2 separate regions of the Homo sapiens genome follow, and region 1 is linked to region 2. Evidence: fine-mapped expression QTL. Tissue or cell type: whole blood. Region 2 holds a variant in brackets; the other region holds the start of a gene. All regions are shown on one strand. Distances are from middle to middle.

What was found. PIP is the estimated chance that this variant, and not a neighbour inherited with it, causes the effect.
Region 1: it holds the start of GCH1, and the variant in region 2 is fine-mapped to the expression of GCH1 in whole blood (TOPMed, PIP above 0.99).

The regions. Positions count from the first base shown.
Region 1 is chr14:54,897,730-54,906,068 of GRCh38, forward strand. GCH1 (GTP cyclohydrolase 1) reads right to left here and starts at 5,097. Exons shown (of 6, transcript NM_000161.3): 1 at 4,592-5,097. The coding sequence starts at 4,934. RefSeq lists an enhancer at 1-182 and silencers at 4,282-4,341, 4,352-4,401, 4,812-5,451.
Region 2 is chr14:54,859,754-54,868,092 of GRCh38, forward strand. GCH1 (GTP cyclohydrolase 1) reads right to left here. Exons shown (of 6, transcript NM_000161.3): 2 at 5,574-5,683. Among named protein-coding and RNA genes, the nearest start is that of MIR4308, 14 kb to the right of the region's middle. The variant G/A (reference allele first, on the strand shown) is at 3,785.

The sequences.
Region 1 (8,339 bases), 38 kb after region 2:
GCTCTACTACTTGTGTCAACCTCTCTGCCTCAGTTGCCTTGTCATGGGGATAAGAGAAATGTTTACTTGAAAACTGGAAGATGAACCAAGACCATCCAACGTAAAGCTTTTAACCCATTAAAAAGTACGGTCATGCATTGCTTAACAATGGGGATACATTCTGAGAAACACCTGAGAAATGCAGTTTCATATCGCAAACACTGAAGGAAGAGAGTGCTAACACAAACCTAGATGAGATAGCCTATTACACACCTAGGCTACACGGTAGAGCCTATTATTCCTAGGCTACAAACCTGTATGGCATGTTACTGTAATGAATGCTGCAGGCAACTGTAACACAATGGTATTTGTGTATTTAAAGATATGTAGGCCAGGTGGGATAGCTCATGCCTGTAATCCCAGCACTTTGGGAGACCAAGAGGAGAGGATCACTTGAGCCCAGGAGTTCGAGACCAGCCTGGGCAAAACAGTGAGACCCTGCCTCTATATTTAAAATACAAATAATAATAATTTTAGAAAGACATCTAAACATAGAAAAGGTACAGTAAAAATATAGTAGAAAAGACTTAAGATGGTATGTCTGTGTAGGGCACTTACCATGAAAGGAGCTTGCAGGATTGGAAGTTGCTCTGGGTGAGTCAGTGAATGCATGGTAAGTGAATGTGAAGGCCTAGGACATTACTGTACACTACTGTAAACTTTATAAACACTGTACACTTGGGCTACACTAAACATATTTTTTCTTCAATAATTTCAGCTTAATGTATTTAAAACTTTGACTCTTTTGTAATAACACAGCTTAAAACAAAAACACATTGTACAGCTGTGCAAAAATATTTTATATCCTTGTTCTATACCTTTTTCTATTTTTAATTTTAATTTTTATTTTTATTTATTTATTTACTGTTGAGACGGAGTCTCACTCTGTCAACCAGGCTGCAGTGCATTGGTGCAATCTCGGCTCACTGCAACCTCCACCTTCTGGGTTCAAGTGATTCTCCTGCCTCAGCCTTCCAAGTAGCTGTGACTACAGGTATGCGCCACCACATCTGGCTAATTTTTACATGTTTAGTAGAGATGGGGTTTCAACATGTTGGCCAGGCTGGTCTCTTTCTAACTCCTAACCTCAAGTAATCCGCCCACCTTGGCCTCCCAAAGTGCTGGGATTACAGGTGTGAGCCACCATGCCTGGCCCAATTTTCTTAATTTTTAAATTTTGTTAAAAACTAAGACATGGGGGAGACGAGAGGAAAAAACTAAGACACAAACAAACACATTACTCTAGGCCTACACAGGTCAGGATCACCAAGACATCACCAGACAATGTGAATTTTTCAGCTCCATTGTAATCTTATAAACCACCTTCATACATGTGGTCCATCATTGAAGGAAACATCATAATGTAATGCATGATTATATTCAATTAATGGCTTATAATAATCTTAAATGGGCTGGGTATGGTGGCTCACACCTGTAATCCTAGCACTCTGGGAAGCCAAGGCAGGCAGATCCCTTGAGCTCAGGAGTTCAAGACCAGCCCGGGCAACATGGCAAAAACCCGTCTCTATCAAAAATACAAAAATTAGCAGGGCATGGTGGCACAAGCCTGTAGTTCCAGCTATTCAGGAGGCTGAGGTGGGATCACTTGAGTCCAGCAGAGTGAGACTGCAGTGAGCCGAGATTGCGCCACTGCACTCCAGCCTAGGCAGCAGAGCCAAACCCTGTCTCAAAAACATGAAAATAAACATAATAATAATAATCTTAAATGGTCCGCTCCATGGACTTTTCTTTTCTGAAACAGGGTCTCCCCACGTTGCCCAGGCTGTTCTCCTGAGCAACAACTATCCTCCTGCCTCAGCCTCCCTAGTAGCTGGGACTGCAGGCACGCCACAAAACCTGTCTTTATATTGTGGTAAAATATATATAAAATTGGTCATTTTTAGCCATCTTGAAGTTACAATCCAGTGGCATTCACAATATTGTGCAACTATCACCACTCTCTAGTTCCAGAACATTTTCATGACTCCAAAAGGAAGCTCCAAAGGAAGCTCCATACTCATTAAACAATCACTACCCATCCCCCTCTTCTCGCCAGTCCCTGACAACTACTAATCTTGCAGTGTCTCTACATCCATGGACTTTTTTTTTTTTTGAAATGGAGTTTAGTTCTTGTTGCCCAGGCTGGAGTGTAATGGTGCGATCTCGGCTCACTGCAACCTCCGCCTCCAGGGTTCAAATGATTCTCCTACCTCAGCTTCCTGAGTAGCTGGGATTACAGGCACCTGACACCATGCCCGGCTAATTTTTGTATTTTTGGTAGAGAATGGGTTTTCCCATGTTGGCCAGGCTGGTCTCGAACTCCTGACCTCAGGTGATCCGCCCGCCTCGGCCTCCCAAAGTGCTGGGATTACAGGTGTGAGCCACCGCGCCCGGCCCATGGACTTTTTAAATAGTAAAACTTGACCAGAACAGTTTTTTTGTTTTTTTTGTTTTTTCTGGAGACAGAGTCTCCCTCTGTCGTCCAGGCTGGAGTGCAGTGGTGCAATCTCGGCTCACTGCAACCTCCTCCTCCTGGGTTCAAGTGATTCTCCTGCCTCAGCCTCCCGAGTAGCTGGGACTACAGGCGCCCGCCATCACACCCGGCTAATTTTTTTGTATCTTTAGTAGAGACGGGGTTTCGCCATGTTGACCGGGCTGGTCTTGAACTCCTGACCTCAGGTGATCCGCCCACCTCGGCCTCCCAAAGTGCTGGGATTACAGGCGTGAGCACCGAGCTCGGCCAACCAGAACAGTTTTCTAATGTGGAATGATGTGTTCTTTGCAGTTATTAATCCTCTTTAAATGAATCTTCGCTCATGAGATATTTCAGCTAACCATTTCTCAAGTAAATCTGTGAGTCACTTTAGATAATTCTGTGACCTGTCTCAGGGTCAGAAATTCCTCTCTCTTTGGGTAATTAGATCCATGCTAGATTACAGAACACTGTCCTATGAATTCTCTTTAAGGGAGGATTCCCAAAGCCTGGCCGATGCTGTGAAGTAAACCACTTTCTGTGTCTGCAAGGGGCAAAATGAGTAAGGCCTTAAGAAGACATTTCATTACATTGTGAAATATCTCACACACACACACACACACACACACACACACACACACACACACAAATTTAAAGCCCTAGACCTCCAAAGAGCTGATCCCACAGAAAACTGAAAGTTTATTTTTCAGTCTTTGTATTTTGAAATCTCTTCTGAGATTCCAAACTTTTGCAATTGAGGGGTAAAAAAAAGTGAATTTGGAAACAGAACTAGAAGTCACTGCCGGTTTTAGAGTGTAGCATCATTTCCTTTTGGGGCCCCGTCTCTTTCACATTCTGATTTCCCACCCTTCCTTTGGGGTGTGGAAGACTGGGCAAAAAATAACTTTCTTTTTCCCAGGGTCTATTTGGTGGAATCGCTCTACACTCCTTCAGAGAAATAACTGGGGCAGGGAGATTGCCTTTCCAGCGCACTGTTTTTCTTTCAAAAAACAGTGAACGGTAGAATGCTTCTTAGGGCAAATAAATAAATGTCACCAAGACACACGGAAGGTGTAGACTGGAAAATAATGTCTTTGGTCCCAGCTGTAGAAGCCAGAAGCTTTATTTTTTTAAACACAGACCAATACTGCTTCTCTGGCCAACAGGCAGCAAAGTCCCCATTTTCCACTCTCCATCACCCCATCTTGCATCCTACCCACACTGATTGCATCCCCACCCTCTGGGTGAAAAGCCGACACGCCTCAGACGCTAACAGCACCGGGTCAACCCGGCTTTATTTTAGGGTGGGAGGGTGCGGGGATGAGACTGAGTCCTGGAACCCACGGAGCCCTCCGAATCCCGGAGTAGCTTTACTGCTTTTTGCGGGGTTGGGGGTGGGGGGAGGAAACAGATTTCAGCAGCAAACTCACCCAATCAACCTCACACCTCAAACTCCGGGGAAGCCCGTGCCCAAAATTGTGCCGAATTTTGTAAATGTCCTGAACTGGAGTAAACTTGAGGTGGACAAAAAAAAAAGCACAACTCTAAGACTCCGATCCCCTGGCAAATCAGTGGGAATGCAGGTCCCCGAGGTTTCGGGGAAGGATCGCGCCGAGGCTTCAATCCAGATACACACCCTGACAATGGGATCTCAATAAGGAACTACCCAGGAAGCCGTCGCCGCAGCAAGTGCCCAGGTGATCCTTATCGTGGGCAAGTTTGGAACCGCAGGTACCCCGAGAATCCCGCGCTGGGCGCTCAGGCGAGAGGGCTCCGGGCTCCCGTCCACGCCCACCCGGGGCGTTCTAGGAGGGCTGCGCGCTGGGAGCGGGAAGGGCCCCTGGAAGGCGGCTGCAGCGAGTTCCGGGGCTGAGAGGTCGCTGCCACCCAGGAAGCCCCGACTGTGCCCCACGCAGGGCCTCGGCAGGGCGGCAGGCTAGGGCGGGTTCGGAGGTGACAGCGCCCGGCTTCCTGCGCCAAAAGTGAGGCAACTCCGGAAACTTCCTGGAGCCGGCGCGCGTTTCCTGCAAGCACCGCCCCCGCCGCCCGCACGCTCTAGCAGCCCGCGGGCGCACTGACCTGAGATGGTCTCCTGGTAGCCCTTGGTGAAGAACTGCATGGCCGAGGCCGCCCTCCAGGGCGTCTTGAGCAGCCCTTGCCGCTGGGGGTTCTCGCCCAGCGAGCTCAGGATGGACGAGTAGGCGGCTGCCAGGTTAGGGAGGTTCAGCTCGTTATCCTCCTCGCTGCGGGGCCGCTCGCCCTTCCAGCCGTCCGCGGGCTGCGCGCTCTTGGCCTCGGGCCGCGGGGGCTTCTCCGCCGGCCTGCTGGGCCCGGGCCGCGGCGGATCCCGCTCGGGGAACCCATTGCTGCACCTGGCGCCCCGCGGCTTCTCCGCCGGTGCCCGCACAGGGCCCTTCTCCATGGACCCGCCGCAGCCGCTGCCGTTCGGGAAGGACCCCGGGGCGCTTCGAGGTCTGCGGCTAAACTCCGCCGGTGGCCGCGGACAATGGGCTGTGGCCGGAGTCACCTGAGGAAGGTACGCAACCTGCTTAGATCACACTCCGAGCCGGGAGCGGCCACAGGCTGGAAAGCCCGGCCGCGCCTCCTTTTTATGGCCCGGCGGCTCAGCCTGCGCCGCGGAGCGCTCCCATTGGCCGGCCCCGCCTCGCGTCACGGCCCTCGCCGCGCCCCTCGGCCTCCCGCCCCCGGGGTCCCCAGCAGGGGTCGCGGCTCCGGAGACGCCCGGAGGGGTTCGCAAGCGCAGGGAGGGAAGGAAAAGGGCGCCGGCCCCTAGGATCAGGCGGGACCCCTCCACTTATTGCGGAATGAGCCGAACCCGAAAAGAGGCAGTCGTCCAGGAGCTGGGATCTCAGTGAGAAAGACGCGGTCTGGGCGCCCAGTCGCCCCCTCTTCAGGCCAAGAGGGCGCTGCATTGAAGGGCTCCGGTCCCCTCGCCCTGTGAAAGATCAGCAAACAGGTGGCCTTGCCTGGAGAGAGACCGAGTTAAGCCACCGATTAGGAACCAACTCTTAAGCTTTCAAGGCAAGAGAATAATGTGACTTCAGACTCTTGGGTTTAGTTAAAAACGCACCTGCCACCTAGGGGCCAGGTGGCACCGCTGTCGGGGCAAGTGTCACATCAAGTGGCCCTTATGTGGGTCCCTATGTCTAGAAGGATAGGATTTATGGTTGCTAGAACTTTGATCCTGGAAAAATTGATTTGCAAACGAAGATAGGACTTTCACTTAAAATCCATTTCCGTCGGTGGCTCACGCCTGTACTCCCGGCGCTTGGGGAGACCGAGGCGGGAGGATCGCTTGAGGCCAAGAGTTCGAGACCAGCCTGGAAAACATAGCAAGACCTCATCTCTATAAAACCCATCGCATTTTCTAGAAACGCAGTTGTGCAGATTTGGTGCTCAATTGTTTTACAGTTCCATGCAAAGCGTCTTTCCCCAGATGTTGGTACAAATTGTGAAATGCTATTCACCAACTGAACTCTTAACCAGTGACATCTGCTGTAACTGTTTTCTTTGAGATTAATAAATGGACCTTTTTCCTCACTTGAGGGATTATCTCATAATGCCGAAGGTGAGCTTTAAAACATGTATCAAAATAATATTTTTTTTCTTTTTTTTTTTTTGAGGCTCACTTCATCCTCCGCCTCCTGGGTTCAAACGATTCTCCTGCCTCAGCCTCCTGAGTAGCTGGGATTACAGGCACCTGCCACCATGCCCGGCTAAATTTTTGTATTTTTAGGAGAGGTGGGGTTTTGCCATGTTGGCCAGGCTGGTCTCGAACTCCTGACCTCAGGTGATCCACCTGCCTCGGCCTCCCAAAGTGCTGGGATTACAGGTGTGAGCCACCATGCCTGGCCTAATGTAGATTTTCTGACATAGAAGCAGGTATTAATAGGCTTAGGATCAAACAAACCAATAGGGAAGCCTGTGGAATTATTCTATGCTAACAATGTAGCTTGGTCATTATAATAAGTAATTAGTATTTATGATACATCTGCTCTAGGCGCAGCCCCGTTGGAAACATTCAGGAAAGAAATATGGACATTGCCTAGCCTTGTAGGCACCTTTACTCCAAAATGGAAGAAATGTTCATATCAGTGGGGTTATTTATTTATTTATTTATTTATTTATTTATTTATTTTTAAATTTTAATCTATTTATTTAAGAGCGGGTTATGAGACTGGCTAATTTTTGTATTTTTGGTAGAGATAAGGTTTCACCATGTTGCCAAAGCTGGTCTCGAACTCCAGGGCTCAGGATTATAGGCCTGAGCCACCGTACCCGGCCCAGTGGGGTTTTTAAATAGAGAATATGAACATCCTTTGGAAAACCTCTTTGTCATTTTCCTCTTTATTAAAATTTTTAAATTTTTTATTGTAGGTTTTTATTGGGAGTGGGGCCCTGCAACATTTTTTTCCTCTAACTGTGCTGCCCACTGTCTGCTGATACCTCCTGGTCAGAATTATCTGCTGGGTCTCAAGCTATTTCAAGCATAGTTGAAGACAACATTCAAAGGATGACCTTGCATTTAACAAATGAAAACAAAGATACTAAGTGAGGTACTTTAAAAATGGAGAGAGTAGATAGAGATGCTTTCAGTACGAATTTATTTTTAGTGGCAATCTTTCGTCTTCCTTTAAAAACATGTGTAAAGATTAACTAATATTGTATTCCACAAAGACAGTTTCTAATGAAATTTTTACCCTAAAAATTAACATTTTCTTACACGTATTGCCACTGAGGCACCTGCACCTTTGTTGCAGGACAGGGCCTCTGGATACATGCTAACTTGTAAAATGGAGGCAGTGCCTTTCGGCCAAATGCCCAAAAATAATACAAGAAAACTTTGAAATCACCAACATTATATGAATAATTTAATAGTAAAATGTAGATAGTTGACAAGGATGGTTATAAGTAGCAACAGGAGAAAAAAAGAGGAATAAACCAAAAGGGAAGTAGGTCCCAGATAATTTATTAGCATAAAATGGTTCAACAGTAATATTATGAGCATTTACAGCCAGGAATTGTTACCGCATCCATGTTTTTCACCCAGTAAGGGATTCATTTTCAGCTTGGACCCAGTCTGGGAGTTTCTTTCTACCAAAAAGCCAAGGAATTTTTTAAAGTCTCTAATTTCTAGGACAGCAGCAGAACAAAGAGGCAGATGAGAAAGACACACCAAGTCAGAGACTGAACACTGCAGTGCTACAGAAATGTACAAAGAGTTGTTTGCCAAGTGTGATATGATGATACATGTATATGTAGGTTTTCAGCCATAGTACCTGGTTCATAACTCACAGTCTTTTGTTACAATGTTGGGGCACTTTAGGCCTCAGAAAATAGAATCAATCTCTCTCTCTCTCTCTCTCTCTCTCTCTCTCACCTTCTGCTCCCCTTCCACTCACTAAAGGCAGGACTCTAATCATCTCCCGCCTTTCTGATTACGGATCATAAACCCTCATTGCAAACAGGGTCCTGCCTCATACCCTGGAGGAAGCATGGCTGCACAGAGAGGTCAATCACACCTTGACACGGCTGTCCATGCTTCAATCATGCCTATACAACGAACATAAAAGGCCCAGACGGCAGGGCTCAGGGAGGTTTTGGACAGCTGAATATGTGGAGGTTCCTGGAGGGTGGTGTGCCCAGGGAGGGCATGGAAACTCCATACCTCTTACCCCATACCTCACCCTATGCATCTTTTCATCTGTATCTTTTGTAATATCCTTCATAATAAACTGGTAAACGTAAGTGTTTCCCTGAGTTCTTTGAGTCACTCTAGCAAATTAATTGAACCCAAAGAGGGGGT
Region 2 (8,339 bases):
AAATCATTAGCTGAGTGAAAATACAGTGCCTTCTTTGTGACAAAATAAGGAAATATAGAAAGAATATAGTACACTTTTATGTAATTTATCACGACAATGTATTACCTTGAAAACATCTGGAACTGTTAAGACTTAGAAAATGAAACATTTATATATGTATTTTTAAAATTACATAAATGCAGTAAAAGCAAAATATATAAGTATGAGTCTATTAATCAAATAACAAACTTGTACAGTTGTCCGTTGGTAAATGCGGGAGATTGCTTCCAGGACCCCTGTGTATACCCAAATCCTGCATACTCAAGTCCCGCAGTCGGCCCTGCAGAACCTGCATATATGAAAAGTTGCCCCTCCATCTATACAGGTTTTGTATCCTGCAAATACTGTAGAATTTTTGATCAGTGTTTGCTTGAAAAAGAGCCATGTCTAAGTGGACCCATGCAGTTCAAATTCATGTTGTTCAAGAGTCAATTGCATGGCCCTGACACTTACCTGTGAAGTTGAACTCTTGACACAAATCTGAAAGTTTCTTCTTTATGGAGGAGAAACATTCTCAAGGAAAGGCAAATGATCTCATAGCAACACTAAAATGTATACAGGAAAGCCTCCTTTAAATGGCAAAAACTGTAAGCATAAGTATTGCCATTCCACACATCACAGCAGCCTTAAGATCCCACCTCACAGCCTTAAGATCCCACCGCAAAGCCCTGCAGCACAGAAGGTCTCCACACCCTTTTGTGCTTGGCTTCCTGGTTTCTAAGCTGCTAGAGAGTGCACCATCTTCCTTTTTTTTTTTTTTTTTTTTGAGATGGAGTCTCACTCTGTCGCCCAGGCTGGAGTACAGTGGCCCAGTCTTGGCTCACTGCAAGCTCCGCCTCCAAGGTTCAAGCAATTCCCCTGCCTTAGCCTCCTGAGTAGCCGGGACTACAGGCGCCTGCCACCACACCCAGCTAATTTTTGTATTTTTAGTAGAGATGGTGTTTCACCGTGTTAGCCAGGATGGTTTCGATCTCCTGACCTTGTGATCTGCCCGCCTCGGCCTCCCAAAGAGTTGGGATTACAGGCGTGAGCCACCACGCCCGGCCCCATCTTCCTAACTGGAGAAAAAGGGCACTGCTACCACCATGGCTTGGCAAGAACCTGCACCCTAAGAACTAAGTTTTAAAGGACCCAATATACAGCCAGGCCATTTCTGTTATCTTAAATGGCACCAATTAATATCAAATATAAAAGTTACTCTTTTGGGGCCAAATACTACATACGAAAAACATTAGTTCTCTGAAAAGATTAATAGAGTAAATGGTCACTTGTAGGCAATTAATTAACCGAATATAAAATTAGAGACTCAACGGCATCATGGTTTGCTAACACTGTTTTCATTGTTCACTTACTATTTACATAATTGATCTAGTAGTACTTAGTGATTTTTTCCCCCATCCATTGGCACTATGCTTTAGGAATTTGAGAAGTCCACCTCATTGCCTTCCTGGTTGGCAGGAGGAAAAAGTAAAATAGCACCTGAACATTGAGGATTTCAAAGAAAAATTAGAGAGTTAAAACTTTCCCATGAACCAAGGTCTTCTATGCTGTCTGAAATTTTTACATTTCCATGCAGACACGGAATTTGTTCATTGTTTATACTATTTTTGGTCTTAAGATCCTAGGTAATTTAAATGTCCATTTCACAAAATCACTAGATAGGCCAGGAGTGGTGGCTCACACCTGTAATTCCAACATTTTGGGTGGATTGCCTGAGGTCAGGAGTTCAAGACCAGCCTGGCCAACATGGTGAGACCCCATCTCTACTAAAAATACAAAAATTAGCCAGGCGTGGTGGCGGGTGCCTGTAATCCCAGCTATTCGAGAGGCTGAAGCAGAAGAATTGCTTGAACCTGGGAGGCGGAGGTTGCAGTGAGCCGAGATCGCACCACTGCACTCCAGCCTAGGCAACAAGAGCGAAACTGTCTCAAAAAAAAAAAAAAAATCACTAAATAATATATTTTTAAAACAAAGGTAGCAAAAACACAAACACTGAGGAAGTAATAGCAGAAAGTAACAGGATAAAATGGTGACAGGCTGAGTACAGAATCAGTGCCTTGGATCTGGCTGCAGCCAAGCCACTAACTCTCTCTATCCTCTTGAACAAGTCACAGGCTTTCTGTGCCTAATTTGCTCACCAATAGATTCCCTTTCAAAGATTCCTTCATTATCAATTGCAGGATTTCCAGATACGATATGGCTTCTGATGTGATGTATCTGGGTTTTCTGATTGCTTTCTCTTCTTTTCTTTTTAGAGACAAGGTCTTGTTCTGTCACCCAGGTTGGGGTACAGTGGCATGATCATAGTTCACTGTAACCTGAAACTCCTGAGCTCAAGCAATCTTCCTGCCTCAGACTCCCAAAAAGTAGCTAGGACTACAGGTATGCACCCACCATGCCCAATTAATTTTAAAAAAAAATTTATTTTGTGGTAGAGACAGTCTCACTTGCTGGTCTTGAACTATTGACCTGAAGCTATCCTCCCACCTTGACTTCCCAAGTCGCTGGGATTACAGGCATGAGCCACCTCACTCGGCCCTGATGTGATATAATATGAAGTCTTCAGCACCCTTATGAAGCACTACTCTTTTTTTTTTTTTTTTTTTTTTTGGACACGGATTCACTCTCTTGCCAGGCTGGAGTGCAGTGGTGTGATCTCGGCTCACTGCAGCCTCGACCTCCTGGGTTCAAGCGATTCTCCAACCTCACCCTCCCGAGTAGCTGAGACCACAGGTGCATGCCACCATGCTAGCTAATTTTTGCCTGTTTTTTTGTTTGTCTGTTTGGTTGATTGGTTTTCGTTTTTTTTTTTTTTGGTTGGTTTTTTTTTTTTTGGTAGAGACAGGGTTTTACCATGTTGCCTAGGTTGGTCTCAAACTCCTGAGCTCAAAGCGATACATCCACCACCTGCCTTGGCCTCCCAAAGTGTTGAGATTACTGACGTAAGCCACCGTGCCCAGCCCTTACGAACTACTTTTATCAGAAATGTTTAGCCCTAGTCTTATGAAACTTTAGATCTAATCTAGTTTATAGGAAATCCAGAGGCTGAAGGAAACAAATCTGGAAGGTGGGGCACTCTGCTGAACAGCTGGCCTATTTTCTTTTCAGTAGAGAATGTTATGGGTGGGAGCACTATTTTAGAACAAAAGGGACTTAACAGGTATAACCAAATGCAATGTAAATACAAATGTGTGACTCTCCCTTGGATTCCTGTTTAAACAAACCAAGAGTAAACATTTGAGACAATTGGAGAAATTTAAATATGAATTCGTTATTAGACACTATTTAAGAATTATTGTTAATTTTGTGATAGTGCTGCTGTGGATAAGTAAGAAAATATTTTAGGGCCAGGTGCGGTGGCTCACGCCTGTAATCCCAGCACTTTGGGAGGCCAAGGCGGGCGGATCACGAGGTCAGGAGATCAAGACCATCCTGGCTAACACCGTGAAACCCCTTCTCTACTAAAAATACAACAACAAAATTAGCCAGCATGGTGGCAGGCGCCTGTAGTCCCAGCTACTCAGGAGGCTGAGGTGAGAGAATGGCGTGAACCCGGGAGGTGGAGCTTGCAGTGAGCCGAGATCACACCACTGCAATCTAGCCTGGGCGACAGAGCGAGACTCCGTCTCAAAAAAAAAAAAAAAAAAAAAAAAAAGCATGCACATGTACTCCAAAAAAGTATTGACAGCAGTATTGTTTGTAATAGCAAAAAAAAAAAAAAAAAAAAAAGAGGCAACAATACAAA[G/A]GTCCACCAAGAGCAGAATAGATAAATTGTGGTATATTTGTACAATGGAATAAGATATAACAATGAAAATAAACTACAATGACAGGCAATGACATCAATGAATCCGACTATGTAGAACAAGAGAGGCCAGACACAAAGAGTACATATCGTAGAATCTTTCCACTTACATATAGTTGAAAAACAAGAAAACGAATCCATAGGGTTATAAGTTGATAAACTGATACAAAGGATGGATTAGGGATTAAGAAGAGAAAAGAAATGAGGTGAGCTTCCAGGATGCTACACATATTGTAGTTGTGGGGGTTTCGTTGTTGTTTGTTTGTTTGTTTGTTTGACAGGGTCTGGCAGTCTGGCTCTGTTGCCCAGGCTAGGATATAGTGGCGCAATCTCGGCTCACTGCAACCCCTGCCTCTTGGACTCAAGCCATCCTCCCATCTCAGCCTCCCGAGTAGCTGGCAGTACAGGCATGCACCACCATGCCCAGGTAATTTTTATTTTTATCTTGGTAGAGATGGGGTCTCACCATGTTGCCCAGGCTGGTCTTGAACTCCTGGGTTCAAGCAATCCACCTACCTCAGCCTTCCAAAGTGCTGGGATTACAGGCATGAACCACCGTGCCAGCCTATTCTAGTTCTTGATCTCTGAAGTGGTAAGGAACACCCTTAAGTTTTATGCATTTTCTATCTATATATTATTTCCATAAAAAAGTGAAAAGATACAATACTTTAACAAAGACAAAAATGAAGCAAATGTTAACACTTTAACTTTAGTTGATGGGTATATAAGTATTCATAACACTGCTTCTTGTAAGTCTTCTGTTTAAAGATTATTAATAAAGAGTCAAAATTAAATAAAATTATGATGGGGGTAGGGAAATGGGACAACTCTTTGTTCTATACCACATGTTCTCAAAGGTATGTTAAGTAGTCATTCCTAGACAACATCTAATAACTAACTCAGATTTAAATTCCTCCAATTGTCTCAAATGTTTTACTTTTGGTTTGTTTAAACAGGAATCCAATGGAGAGTCACACATTTGTATTTACACTGCATTTGGTTATACCTCTTAAGTCCCTTTTGTCCTAAAATAGTGCTCCCACCCATAATATTCTCTATTGAAAAGAGAATAGGCCAGCTGTTCAGCAGAGTGCCCCACCTTCTGGATTTGTTCCATTCAGCCTCTGGATTTCCTGTAAACTAGATTAGATCTAAAGTTTCATAAGACTAGGACTAAACATTTCTGACAAAAGAAATTCACAGAGGTGCTGAGGAATCTAATGCATTAGATTCACTTTTCCTAATATAGAAAGGAATGGAAACAAATCCACAAATACCATAACCTCTGTCACAAGAAATTCTGCAATTATTGTTGCTCATGACATGCCATACATACATATCTATCTTGGATCAAACATTATTCAAGTTAAAATAAAGGGCATCTCTAGATTGGGATGCTAATAATAAATAAATAAAGGTTAAAGGTTTTCAGAGCCTGTAGTAGCTACAAAAAAAAAAAAAGAGAGAGAGAGATGCTACTTAAACCTCATTATTTTAACCTATGAACCTGGTATTTAACATGAAAGGCTTATCCTGAGAGCCTTCTGCTACTTTGGTTTTGTTTTTTAAGTTTCAAGTTATTAGTCAGGTTAATAAAGAATAACCATATATGTATAATTGTAAATACCTGAGATATCAGCAATTGGCAGCTAAAAATTTTAAATATAATTATTCTAATTGAAAAACTTTCACTATGTTTTAAATTGCTGGGAAACAACAAAGAGAACCTTACCTTTCCAACAAATGGAACCAAGTGATGCTCACACATGGAAAACATGTCTATGTCCTTCACAATCACCATCTCATCATGATCTTCATCAAATATAGCATCGTTTAGGACATCTGAAATCAGAGGCTTGCTTTAGTAACATGTCCAATTTTATAGAAAGGTAGAATTATGGATAAACATGAATAGACAGTCAACATAAACGAACGTTAATCCTCCCTAAAATATTAAGGGAATACAAATTAAAACTAGATATTTTTCCTTATCAAAGTAGCAAAGTCCTTTTCTGTAAGTAACATTTAAAAATCCTTGATACAGTGTTACATGAAAAATGCAGGATTATGAACATATTTGCAGTATGGAAGAGGAAGGAGAACGGAGGGAGGAAAGGAAAAATTATACCAAAATAAAACAGTGGCTATTTCTGGCAGTAGAAATGGGCCACTTTCACTTTCTTCCTTACATTTTCTTCTACTTTATATTTTGTCTATAATCAATATGTAGAAAACCATATCTGAGAAAAAGACTAATCCTTAGCCCTCTGACTTCTGAGGCCAGATCCAGACACCTGTAAACCTGACCTCTATTATCAATTCCCCAAGTAATTTTCTACATTTGTAAAGTGTTCTATATATTGTAGGCTAGCATCAGACTTATTCTAAACAGTTGCCTTCCTAAGGAAATAAATCCTACAGTTTGTGTGTATATGCCTCTCTGGGAAGGCTTTGGAAGATAAGCAGTGTCTTGTTTAAGCTGTGGACCCTGGCACTTCCAGCCAGACATACAATAGACATTAAAAAAAAAAAAAGCTTTATTTTTAAAAATTGCACTGACTTATCCTCAACTATGCTATGTGCAAAAGAAAAGATTAATCAGATGATGCCTGAGAGCACTCTGAGCTTCCTAACATTCGGTGACTGCAAGAACATCCTGTCCTGGATGCTGAAGAGGGATAGAGGGAAACAAGCCACATTCCCCACCAATCATAATATAGCCAAGCTATTGATAATAGGCAGGTACCCAAACAACATTGTAGATAAATGCCATATGACATGGAAACTTCTTCAGCTATATTGTCAAATGAGAAAAGAAGCTACAAAGAAATACAGTAGGATTTCATTTTCGGAAAATAAATATAGACATAGAAAAAAACTGTACTGATACCTAGACAGCTTGGCAGACTAGATATAATAAGACACGTAGCTGAGTAATTTCAAGGATTTGGGGGATATGCAATATACATAATAGAATTAGACAGAGAAGGGAAGGGATGTATTAGAGCTTTGCACCTGCAGCTCTTTCCCCTCAGAAAGGCAGGCGGCTGAGTGAGTCACAGGAAGATGGACAAATGTCCACCCACACTGCCTGACCTTCAGTGGCTCCACTGCTACTAGAATAGGGGGCTCACAGAGACCAAGTCATCACGTAAACCACAGTTATTACCCCAAGTCAGGCTATTCAGAGATACATTTGACTGTGTCATAGAAAAGTCATTAGTGTGGTCAAGAAAGGCGAACATGGCAGGGTTAGACACATACAGACAAACAGAGACACCCCTGGTAGAAGTGGCTGATAACATCCCAGGAGAAAAAGGCGCAGTGTCACTCACTGAGTATTTCTTCTACCACAGCACTTTTCTATGCTGAATATTCTGCCCTACCTTCAGTCTTATTTCTGAAAAGAAGACCAAAAATAGATCCTTAATGTTTCCAAAAGTTTCTTGGATTTCTCCCCAAGATTTTAATATGGTATGATTGCCACATATAGCTTACTAAAATCTTTAGTCACACAAGATATATTCCTGGAAGGAAAAACAAACCAAAAAAATGTCTTAAAGAAAAAACAAGAGAGAAGCATTAAATATAGGAAGCATTTGTTTTCTCTGGCAAAGAATGAGAGCGTCCCCATCCTAAGCTCTGACGACAACCATATGGCCCATGTTAAAGTCAGCCCTTCAACTCAGGCGAAGTGAAGAGCTGGCTCCAGGCTGGGTGCAGTGGCTCATGCCTGTAATCCCAGCACTCTGGGAGGCAGAGGTAGGTGGATCACCTGAGGTCAGGTGTTTGAGACCAGCCTGGCCAACATGGTCAAACCCTGTCTCTACTGAAAATACAAAAATAAGCCAGGCGTGGTGGTGCATGCCTGTAGTCCCAGCTACTCGGGGGGCTGAGACAGGAGAATTGCTTGAACCCGGGATGTGGAGGCTGCAGTGAGCCGAGATCATGTCACTGTACTCTAGCCTGGGCAAGAGAGAACAAGACTCCGTCTCAAAAAAAAAAAAAAAAAAAAAAAAAGATCTGGCTCCATCACTTACTAGTTATTAGGCCTTGGGCAAGGTACTCTGTACCTCAGTCTTCTCGGCTATAAAATGAGCATAAAGTGCCTGCTTCACAGGGTGTCATGAGGATTAAATGGGCACATGTGTTTAGAACTATGCAGGCGGAGCAAGTGCTAGTTATTGTTATTACTATTATTATTACAATTAAGATTGAGGGAGCTGCAAAGCTATGTATCTCCCATGCATATTGAGGTACATCAAAATTTAAAAAGCAATAATTTGCCTTAACAGAGTACAGAAAAGGAAAAATAGTAACTTGGTGGAGAAACCTGGCAGAGGCTACCTTAACCAAATGATTAAGGTTAACTTTGCCAGTAACAGGACATACTGACATCAGGTAGCTCCTGATAGGACACCATGAGAAGGGCACATCACCTCTGCGGTATTCTTCCCAAAAATCCATAACTGCAGCCTAATCATCAGACAAATCTAGG